Linked DNA regions of Homo sapiens: region 2 is linked to region 1. Evidence: fine-mapped expression QTL. A gene starts in region 1. The other region holds a variant in brackets. All regions are shown on one strand. Distances are from middle to middle.

Region 1 (4,400 bases):
CCTGTAATCCCAGCTACTCGGGAGGCTGAGGCAGGAGAATCCCTGGAACCCAGGAGGCAGAGGTTGCAGTGAGCCAGGAACACACCACTGCACTCCAGCCTGGCTGACAGGGCATGACTCTGCCAAAAAAAAAAAAAAAAAAGGAAGAAGAAAAAAGAAAGGAAAGAAGTTAAGCCAAGGGCTTGTGTATTGAGGAACTGTGATATCAAAATAGAGATGGAGTAGAGGAGATGAAGTAGTTTTGCCCACCCCTTTTCTCAAAAAACATCCCCACATGGCCTAGTAGTTTGGTGGGGGTGGTGTAGGTGAAATAACCTGCCTCCAACTTTATGAATCACTAGACTAGAGAGATTGAGATAGACTTCGTATGCTGATCTAAGCAGTTGGAACTTAATCCTGCAGCATTTTGACATGGAAGACTTCTACACTCCTTGTTGAAATTTTAAGGAATCAAAAGAAAAAGAAAAACAAAAACAAAACAGAACAAAACCCATACCCTTTTCTCACTCCCTAGTTGAAACCAATTGAAAGATAAAGAAATGGAGTTTTATTATTGTATATCAAATGGAGTATGCAGCTTAAAGCTGTTGCCACGTGGGCTTGCCCCTTGTTCACCCCAGAATTAGACAAATGTATCCACCCAGTCACAGGTGGCCATGGACAGTCTGGGGCTCCTGTGTGCCAGAGAGTGGACCAGAAAGCACCTTCTGCAGGCAGGCAGGTAGATCCCAAGAAAGAAGGAAAGAAAAAGTTGAGATACTGGTGTTCAGTTCCTTCCAAACTCGGGGATCAGATAACTCAATGGGGACAGGTGGAGAAAGAGGCCAGGAGTGAAGGACAGCTGATGTCCCTCCACATGGCAACATAGGGATTAGCAATTGTAAGCACCTAATGCTCTTTCTAGCTCTGAAGCTATATTCTACAACGGTCTTGGTACTAGAAGATCACAGGACGGCTAATTTAGGCTACGGACTTTTTTTTCTTTCTTTCTTTTATCTTGAGATAGGGTTTTGCTCTGTCGCCCAGGCTGGAGGGCAGTGGCGTGATATCCGCTCACTGCAACCTCTGCCTCTTGGGTTCAAGCTATTTGCGTGGCTCAGCCTCCCGAGTAGCTGGGACTACAGGCGTGCACTACCACGCTCAGCTAATGTTTGTATTTTTAGTAGAGACGGGGTTTCACCGTGTTGGCTAGGCTTGTCTCCAACTCCTGGCCTCAAGTGATCCGCCCGCCTTGGCCTCCCAAAGTGTTGGGATTACAGGCGCGAGACACCACCCGGCCCTAGGCTATGGATTTCTGTTGCTTTGGCTCTATCTGAAGTATTATAATCAACTGCACCCAAAGGAAAGGCTTCCAGTAGGTTGTCAAGCCGGGCAGTAGGAAATATGGGTTAGGTGGGGGATCTTCAGCTCCTTGCCTGCATCTGTTTTTTCTTTAAAGCAACTTTGATGATTCATATTTCAAATTTGTGTGGCCCATTCACCAGGTTTATTAATCCTAACAGAGCTGGACGTTTCTGCTTCCCCAGGCCCTGTGATTCTGAACGTCACGGGAAAAGAGCAGCATTGCCAGGTGGCCCTGGGGCATGGTGACAGCGGTGGTGTCGCCCACAAGCCGCGGCGTGGCATTCGTACTCAAGGTTTCCCCAGGCCCTGTGGGCGCAGGTAGCGCCCGGCCACCCTTCGGGGCTGGGGTATCGCGCCCACTCATCGCTGACACTCAAGCTCTTCGGCTCGGTTTCCTCGGTACAACGAGGCTCGGCCCTCTTTGGCTGGGCGGCTGGGAGGCTTATGAGACCCCGCAGGGGACAGGTGACAGCCCACAGCAGGTGCACAGCGAATGTCCGTCTTTCCTTCGTCGGCCACCGACCCTGCTCCTTCGTCTCTCGTGCCCGTGCTGGGCCCGTGCGAGTCACCTCCCCGACCCGCAGAACGGTTACGGCGCCAGTCGCACTGCTACCAGGCTAGGGCTGCCCTCCGGCCCAGGATCGGGTCCCCGGGACCGCTTGCGTCCCTGCCGCCTCGCTCCTCCAAACCCCAGCACGTCCGACTCACCGGCTTCATCGCTGGCCGCCCCACGTCGAGACCAGTGCCGCCTCCCTCTGCAGCGCCGGCGACTCACCGGTGCCCCGGCCGAGCCCGCGCCCCGCAGCTTAGCTCACTGGTTCGTCCTTCTGTGAGGTGGGCGCGGCGTCTTCCAGCAACCAATCAGATCCGCTTCTGGTTTCTTACTCCGCCTTTGGGTGGCCGAAGACTCGGCCTCTAATCGCTGACTGGTTCCTAGAAGACCTTTGAAAGACGCGCGGGAGGCGGGCCCTGTGGGACGTTGATTGGCTGGGAGGGCGCCCTCCTCCCGCCAGTTGGGAGAGTGCAGGGGGCGGAGGCGGGGCGGAAGAGTCAGAAGGCGGCCCTAGCGCTTGGGGGACGCTGGAAAGCTTTGCTTCTTGATGGCAGGATGTCAGCGTGGTCCATACGGTTGGGAGGTGATTTTTTTTTTTTTCTTGAGACGGAGTTCGCTCTTGTTGCCCAGGCTGGAGTGCAATGGCGCGATCTCGGCTCACCGCCACCTCCGCCTCCCGGATTCAAGCGAGTCTCCGCCTCACCCTCCCGAGTAGCTGGGATTACAAGGATGTGCCACCAAGCCTGACTAATTTTTGTATTTTTTGTAGAGACGGGGTTTCTCCATGTTGGTCAGGCTGGTCTCGAACCCGGGTTGGGAGTTTTTGTGTTTGTGACGGAAGTCTTACTATGTTGCCCAGGCTGGCCTCGAACTCCTGTCCTCAAGCAATCCTCCCGCCTTAGCCTCCCTTGTAGCGGCTACGGTAGGGAGTTTTTGTTTCTTTAAGTTGTATTTTTATTTTTTATTTTTTAAGGGCTCAGGGAAGCACTGTATTGGATCGTCACATGAAAAACATCACATAGACTTTGTAATTATATCTAGACATACAAATACTAGGGAAAAAACTAAAAATTTAGAGTATAAACATATTTTATATGCTTGAAGTTTTAGTTTATCGTTCCAGAAACTAGACAAGTTACAGTGTAGATCAATATTCCTGTCCCCCAAATATGAATTAAATTATATTGTGTGAAAGGGAAATTATAAAATGCCAGGTAAGATAGGTCTAAGGGCCAGTGTGTCTACATAATTAGCTGTAATCTTTTAAAAATGTGAGTATTTCTCCGCCTTCTCCAGTCCCCATTTAACTAGCCATGGGAAAGGAAGTCGCCTGGAGCAGATCTGAGAAAAATATGCAGAAATTTCAACCCCTGATTCATGTTGTGAAAGCCAATGGGTATAGAGCTATTAGAAGGAATTCCTTAGTAAAGAAGGTACCACAGTTTGATTTAGAGACTGTATTAGCTAGTCATGGTTGCCCAGAGATAAAGAATGAATAGGATGTGTATATATGGATATAGAAACAGATTTATTTTAAGGAATTGGCTCCTGTGCTTGTGGAAGCTTGGAGAGTCCAAAATCTGATGGGGGGAGGCCAGTGCGCTGGAGACTCAGGAAAGGCTGTACTTCGAGTCCAAAAGCTGTTGTAGAACAAAGAAGAGCCAATATTGCATGTAAAGTCTGAAGGCTGTCTACTGGCAGAATTACCCCTTGCACAGGGCAGGGTCAGCCTTTTGTTGTATTCAGCTCGTCAACTGATTGGATGAGGCCCATCCATATTATGGATGGCAGTCTGCTTTACTCAACGTTTCCCAATTTAATGCAAATCTCATCCAAAAACACTTTCACAGAAACATCCAGAATAATGTTTGTCCAAATAACTGGGCACCATGGCCCAGTCAAGCTGATGCACAAAATTAACCATCCTAGACACCCACAGAGATTTTCCATACTCGGGAAATCCTTTTAGATCTGTGCTGTTCAATATGGTGACCATATTGGCTGATTATCTCAGGCCAAATTAGAAAACAAAATCAAATCAAAGGCCAAATTAGAAAACAAAATTTTTGTGTGAACTCAAGGGCTACTTGGGAAATACTGCTCTCTTTTAATATAGATCTGCTTCCTCAGATGAAGGCCTTAGTAGGGTTAAGGAACAGACCACACCCACCACGTATTTATAGCTATTGTTTTGATATGTAGGTTTCCATTTCATATTAGAAACGGCCATGGTACTGTGTACAAGAGAATGTAGGTGGGTATGCATGTCTAGACGTAGAATCCCGCCTTTGGTCAAATAATGAACCCGTATTTAGGTGCACCTATCGACAGGTGACAACGTGCTAGCAGCCCTCACTCGCTCTCAGTGCCTCCTCGGCCTTGGCGTCCACTCTAGCCACGCTTCGGGAGCCCTTCGGCCCGCCGCTGCACTGTGGGAGCCCCTCTGTGTGCTGGCAGAGACCAGAGCTGGCTCCCTCTGCTTGCGGGGCAGTGTGGAGAGAGA
Region 2 (4,400 bases), 830 kb after region 1:
AACACCTACCTACCCAAAGTTAGGTCAAATTTCACAGGTTAAAAGCAGAGTCCTCCATAAGATTCTCCTCTTCTCAGACACCAGCCATAAGCTCTGGGGTTCCCAGGCCACCTGCATTTCTAACTGGCTACAAATTCTGGGGTTCTCACTACTCCCTTGGTACTGTAATTCATTTTAACAACTCACAAAACTCAGAATAGCACCATATTTATAACTACAGTTTTATATAAAAGATACAAATTGGGACCAACAATGAAAAGACACATGGGGTGAGGTGTGGGAGGGTCCCAGATACAGAGCTTCCACATCTTCAGGACACATCACCCTCCCAGCATATCAATGTGCATCACTAACCGGGAAGTTCAACTGAGCTCCAGGTGTCCATAGTTCTTATTGGGGTTTCATTATATAGACATGATTGATATTAGTACATGATTGAACTCCATCTCTAAGGCTCCTCCCCTCCCCACAGGTTAGCCTGACATCACACAGATCAAACCGCAATGCTCTAATCACACGATTGGTCCTTCCAGAGTAGCCAGTCCCCATTCTAAGTCATCTCATTAGCATAAACTCAGTCATGGTCAAGGAGAGGGCATCCATGAATAACAAAGACATTCCCCTCACTCAGAAAATACTTTAGACTTAGAGGTTACCTCCCAGGGACCAAAGTTTAACCAAATTCCTTACTATACAACAGGTCTCTACTTGAATATGACTGTTCTTATTGTCCTCAGACCATAAACAGTACCAGGTCAGCTCCTTTGCTAAACAGGCCTTAGCTCTCTGCTTCTGCCTTTTGATACACTCATCGTACTCATAATCACTTGCTCTTCATCTCCCCTCCTTAAGCTTAAGGTCAAGAACCATGTCTGTCATATTCACTACACTTCACCAGTTCCTCACACTAGTTAAGGAACATAGTTAATATAATCAAATATTTGTTGTTAGGTAAATTCTATCTCCATGCCTTTATTCATAGGTGTGAAAATGACATTTACAAACATAAAGCTAGCACCAGGCACACAGTAGCTACAGTAAAAACAGGTATGTATATAAATAAGATAACCAGGAAACCCCCCAATCATTGAAAAAACCTTTGGAATAGATTTGAAATATCCTTCATCTCAAATCCTGTTGTGTCTACCAGAGTCCTGGGAAAATGTGAATCAACAGGCACAAAATAACAGGACTTCTATATTTTTCATCCTGAAGGTGCTGATAATGGTGATGGGGGAAGGGAGACATTGATTGATTTTCTTCTTTATTCAACTTCTAGTTGAGTTTCATTAACCTTTTAGCAAACAATGATGTTCTAAACAAGCAAAGTGTTTCTTCGAAGTTTATTCCCCCCTAAATACGTGGTAATAGTATTTGAAAGTGGATTTCTATTTCAATTGCCACCCAAGCATCCTTTTCTCTAGCCTGTCACCAAAAAAAAAGATTATACATAATATGATTTTTTTTTAAAAAAGTGGAATTCAAAATTTAAATTTGCAATGAAAAACACAATCATCTTAGTTCAGTCAATAAAAAGATAGAAAGTGAGCCTGAGTATTTTGATCCACCCACTTACTGCAAAGTTCCACATAACTTTGACTTTCAGATGAAAATATTTTCAATAAACATTGGTAGAATCAAACTGAAATCTGATTCCTCATTTGTCTAAGTCATGTTCTCCAGCAATTCTGGGTTGTAAACTCAATGGTAGGAAGTAGAGCTTATGGAATGTCATAGCTGGAAGCAATATGCATAATCAGAAAACAGAGATCCATAGAGGACAAATAACTAGCTCTACTTTCCACACCAAGTTAATGGCAGAGATGGGACCAGAATCCCATCTCCTGACTCTCTACTTCCTAACATTGTTTCTATATCACATTATATTAATATTTCTTTTCTATGCCCCAGAGTTTACAATAATGTTCGGCACATAATAAATGCTCAGTGAATCATGCCGATTTTGATTTCTTAAAGTGTTTTGTCTAACACACTGTGAAGCATGATTCCATATTTTCCTTTCATATATTTAGTTATACTTTTGCACCTACACAGATGACATATGGCTGGTCATATAGCACTGCTCTGCTGAGAACTCAATATGTCTGCATTTCTTCTGTCATCCTTCTTCCATCTCTCCCCAATCTGTGCGCTTAAAAATAAAGGTGCAGCCCTACACAACATACTCTTCATGGATTGTCACTATCTTGCCAGGTGGTAGACTTGCTCTTTTAGTTCCAGTCTTAAAAGCAAACAAGAGTATTTGTTGTAAATGATTTAAAAACTTGACTTGTGGGTGGGAAAAAATATCTCATCCCTCCCAAGACATTCAAACTTTGTTTTTGGTTTCACTGGACTTCAAAAAGACTACAGCTAGCATTTATGATATTCATTTGCCTTTTAAACCAAAGTGGTTGACACATGTTA[G/A]TCTCTCAAATATGTGTTGAATGAAATGTGTGTGAAAACATGTGATGTGAATTATTTCACCTTAAACTGCAATGGGATGTGTTTTTATGCATTCTACATTTGGGTACCTTCGAATAGAGTGTTTCTCTTCAGGTAACTAATTAATGAATATAGGAATTTACACAGGAGCCAGCACCACCATTTGAAAAGACAGATCATATCAGATCTTTCCTGCTTGAATTATTTTAACGGCTTTCACTTAGAATAAAATCAAACCCGTAACATTAGCCTACATGTCCCACATAATCTTGCTCTAGGTTCTTCCCTAGCCTCATCTCTATTGAAACTTCTTTTCATTCATCATCAGCCACCATGCTTTCTTTTCACCTCCTCTTATTTCAGCTCTTTAGGAGTCTTTGCACATGCTGTTCCTGCTGTTTAGAATATTCATTGATATGGTTTGGCTCTGTGTCCCCACTCAAATCTTATGTCAAATTGTAATCCCCATGTGTTGAAGGAGGGGCCTGGTGGGAGATGATTGAATCATGATGGGGCAGACATCCCCCTTGCTGTTCTCATAATAGAGTTCCCAGGAGATCTGGTTGTTTGCAAGTGTGTAGTGCTTCCCCCTTCACTCACTCTCTCTCTCCCACTCTGCCATGTGAAGAAAGTGCTTGCTTCCCCTTCGCCCTTTCACCATGAAGGGCCTCCCAGCCATGCTTCCTGTACAGCCTGCAGAACTGTGAGTCAATTAAACCTCCTTTCTTCATAAATTACCCAGTCTCAGGTAGTTCATTATAGCAGTGTGAGAACTGACAATGTGTTCCCTATGCTCCTCCTCCCACCTCCCCCTGCCAATGAATCATGTCTCTTTGTGTCCATACTCCTATGTAATGATATTTTGCTGCACCTCCCAGCAAATGGTAGAAACTATTTCTCTTCTCCTTAATCTGGACAAGACTAACATAATGCAATGGAAGTAACATTCTAGAATTTCTAAAACCAGGTCTTTAAGTGGCCTTATAGCTTCCACTTTTGCTCTCATAACCCAACTGCTATGTAAGAAGTTTAAGCTGTCTTGCTGAAGAGAGAGGACATATGCAGAGAGAAATCCTAGGATAGTAAACCAGGTAGAAAGAGATGCCACATGGAGGAGAACTAAGGTCCTTTGGCTAATAGCCAGCATCAAGACCCAGACACACTAGTGAGGCCATCTTGGATTCTTCAGTCCCAGCTGAATTGACACCATATGGTCAGCTGAACCTGGCTGAACCCTGCCAAATTCCTGACTCAAAAAATTGTAAGCAATAAAATGGTCATTGCCATTTTAAATTTATATTTTTGTTACACAGAGTAACATTTTGTCTTGTTTACAGTTATATGGGTTTCAGCACACACACAGATATTTGTAATCACCACCACAAGTGGATTTAGCTTAACTTCAACATCCCAAAGCATGTTCTTGTACTGACCATCAGAAGTCAGAGCTCTATACCCACCAACCCTAGCAACCACTGATCTATTCTCTAAACCTACAGTTTTGCTTATGTCAGAGTATCATATAAACAGAATCATACAGTATTCAACATTTTGAGACTGGTTTCTTTCAATTACCGTCATATATTTGAGATTCATTCATGATGTATGTATTAATAGTTTGTAACTTATTATGACTGAGTAGTATTCTATTGCATGGATTACTCATCCATTGACATATTTTGGGGTTGGTTCCAGTTTTTGGTGATTTTGAATAAGGCTATTTTGAGTGTATATGTAGAGGTTTCTTTTCAAAAATAGGTTTTCATTTCTTTGGGCTAAATAGTTAGAAATGGGATTGCTGGATCATATGCAAGGTCTATGTTTAACTTTTAACTCAGAAACTGCCAGAAGGGCTGTACCATTTTGCATTCCCATGAGCAATACATGAGAAACCTAACTGTTCCACACCCTTGTCAGCAGACTATTTTCAGTGCTTTTTTAATCATTCTAATAGG

Direction of the effects. Alleles are on the strand shown, and positions count from the first base shown. SD is a standard deviation of normalised expression in the study named.
For the expression in T cells of the gene that starts at base 2,123 in region 1, G is the high allele of the variant in region 2 and A is the other (large effect, 0.86 SD a copy in GENCORD).

The links. PIP is the estimated chance that this variant, and not a neighbour inherited with it, causes the effect. A credible set is the group of variants that fine-mapping cannot tell apart.
Region 2: its variant is the best candidate, but not a certain one, in a credible set for the expression of CDKN3 in T cells (GENCORD, PIP 0.50).

The regions. Positions count from the first base shown.
Region 1 is chr14:54,394,730-54,399,129 of GRCh38, reverse strand. It overlaps CDKN3 (cyclin dependent kinase inhibitor 3), which reads right to left and starts at 2,123. Exons shown (of 8, transcript NM_005192.4): 1 at 2,053-2,123. The coding sequence starts at 2,061.
Region 2 is chr14:53,563,762-53,568,161 of GRCh38, reverse strand. All of the region lies in intron 2 of LOC105370504 (a long non-coding RNA gene), which reads right to left. Among named protein-coding and RNA genes, the nearest start is that of LINC02331, 280 kb to the left of the region's middle. The variant G/A (reference allele first, on the strand shown) is at 2,428.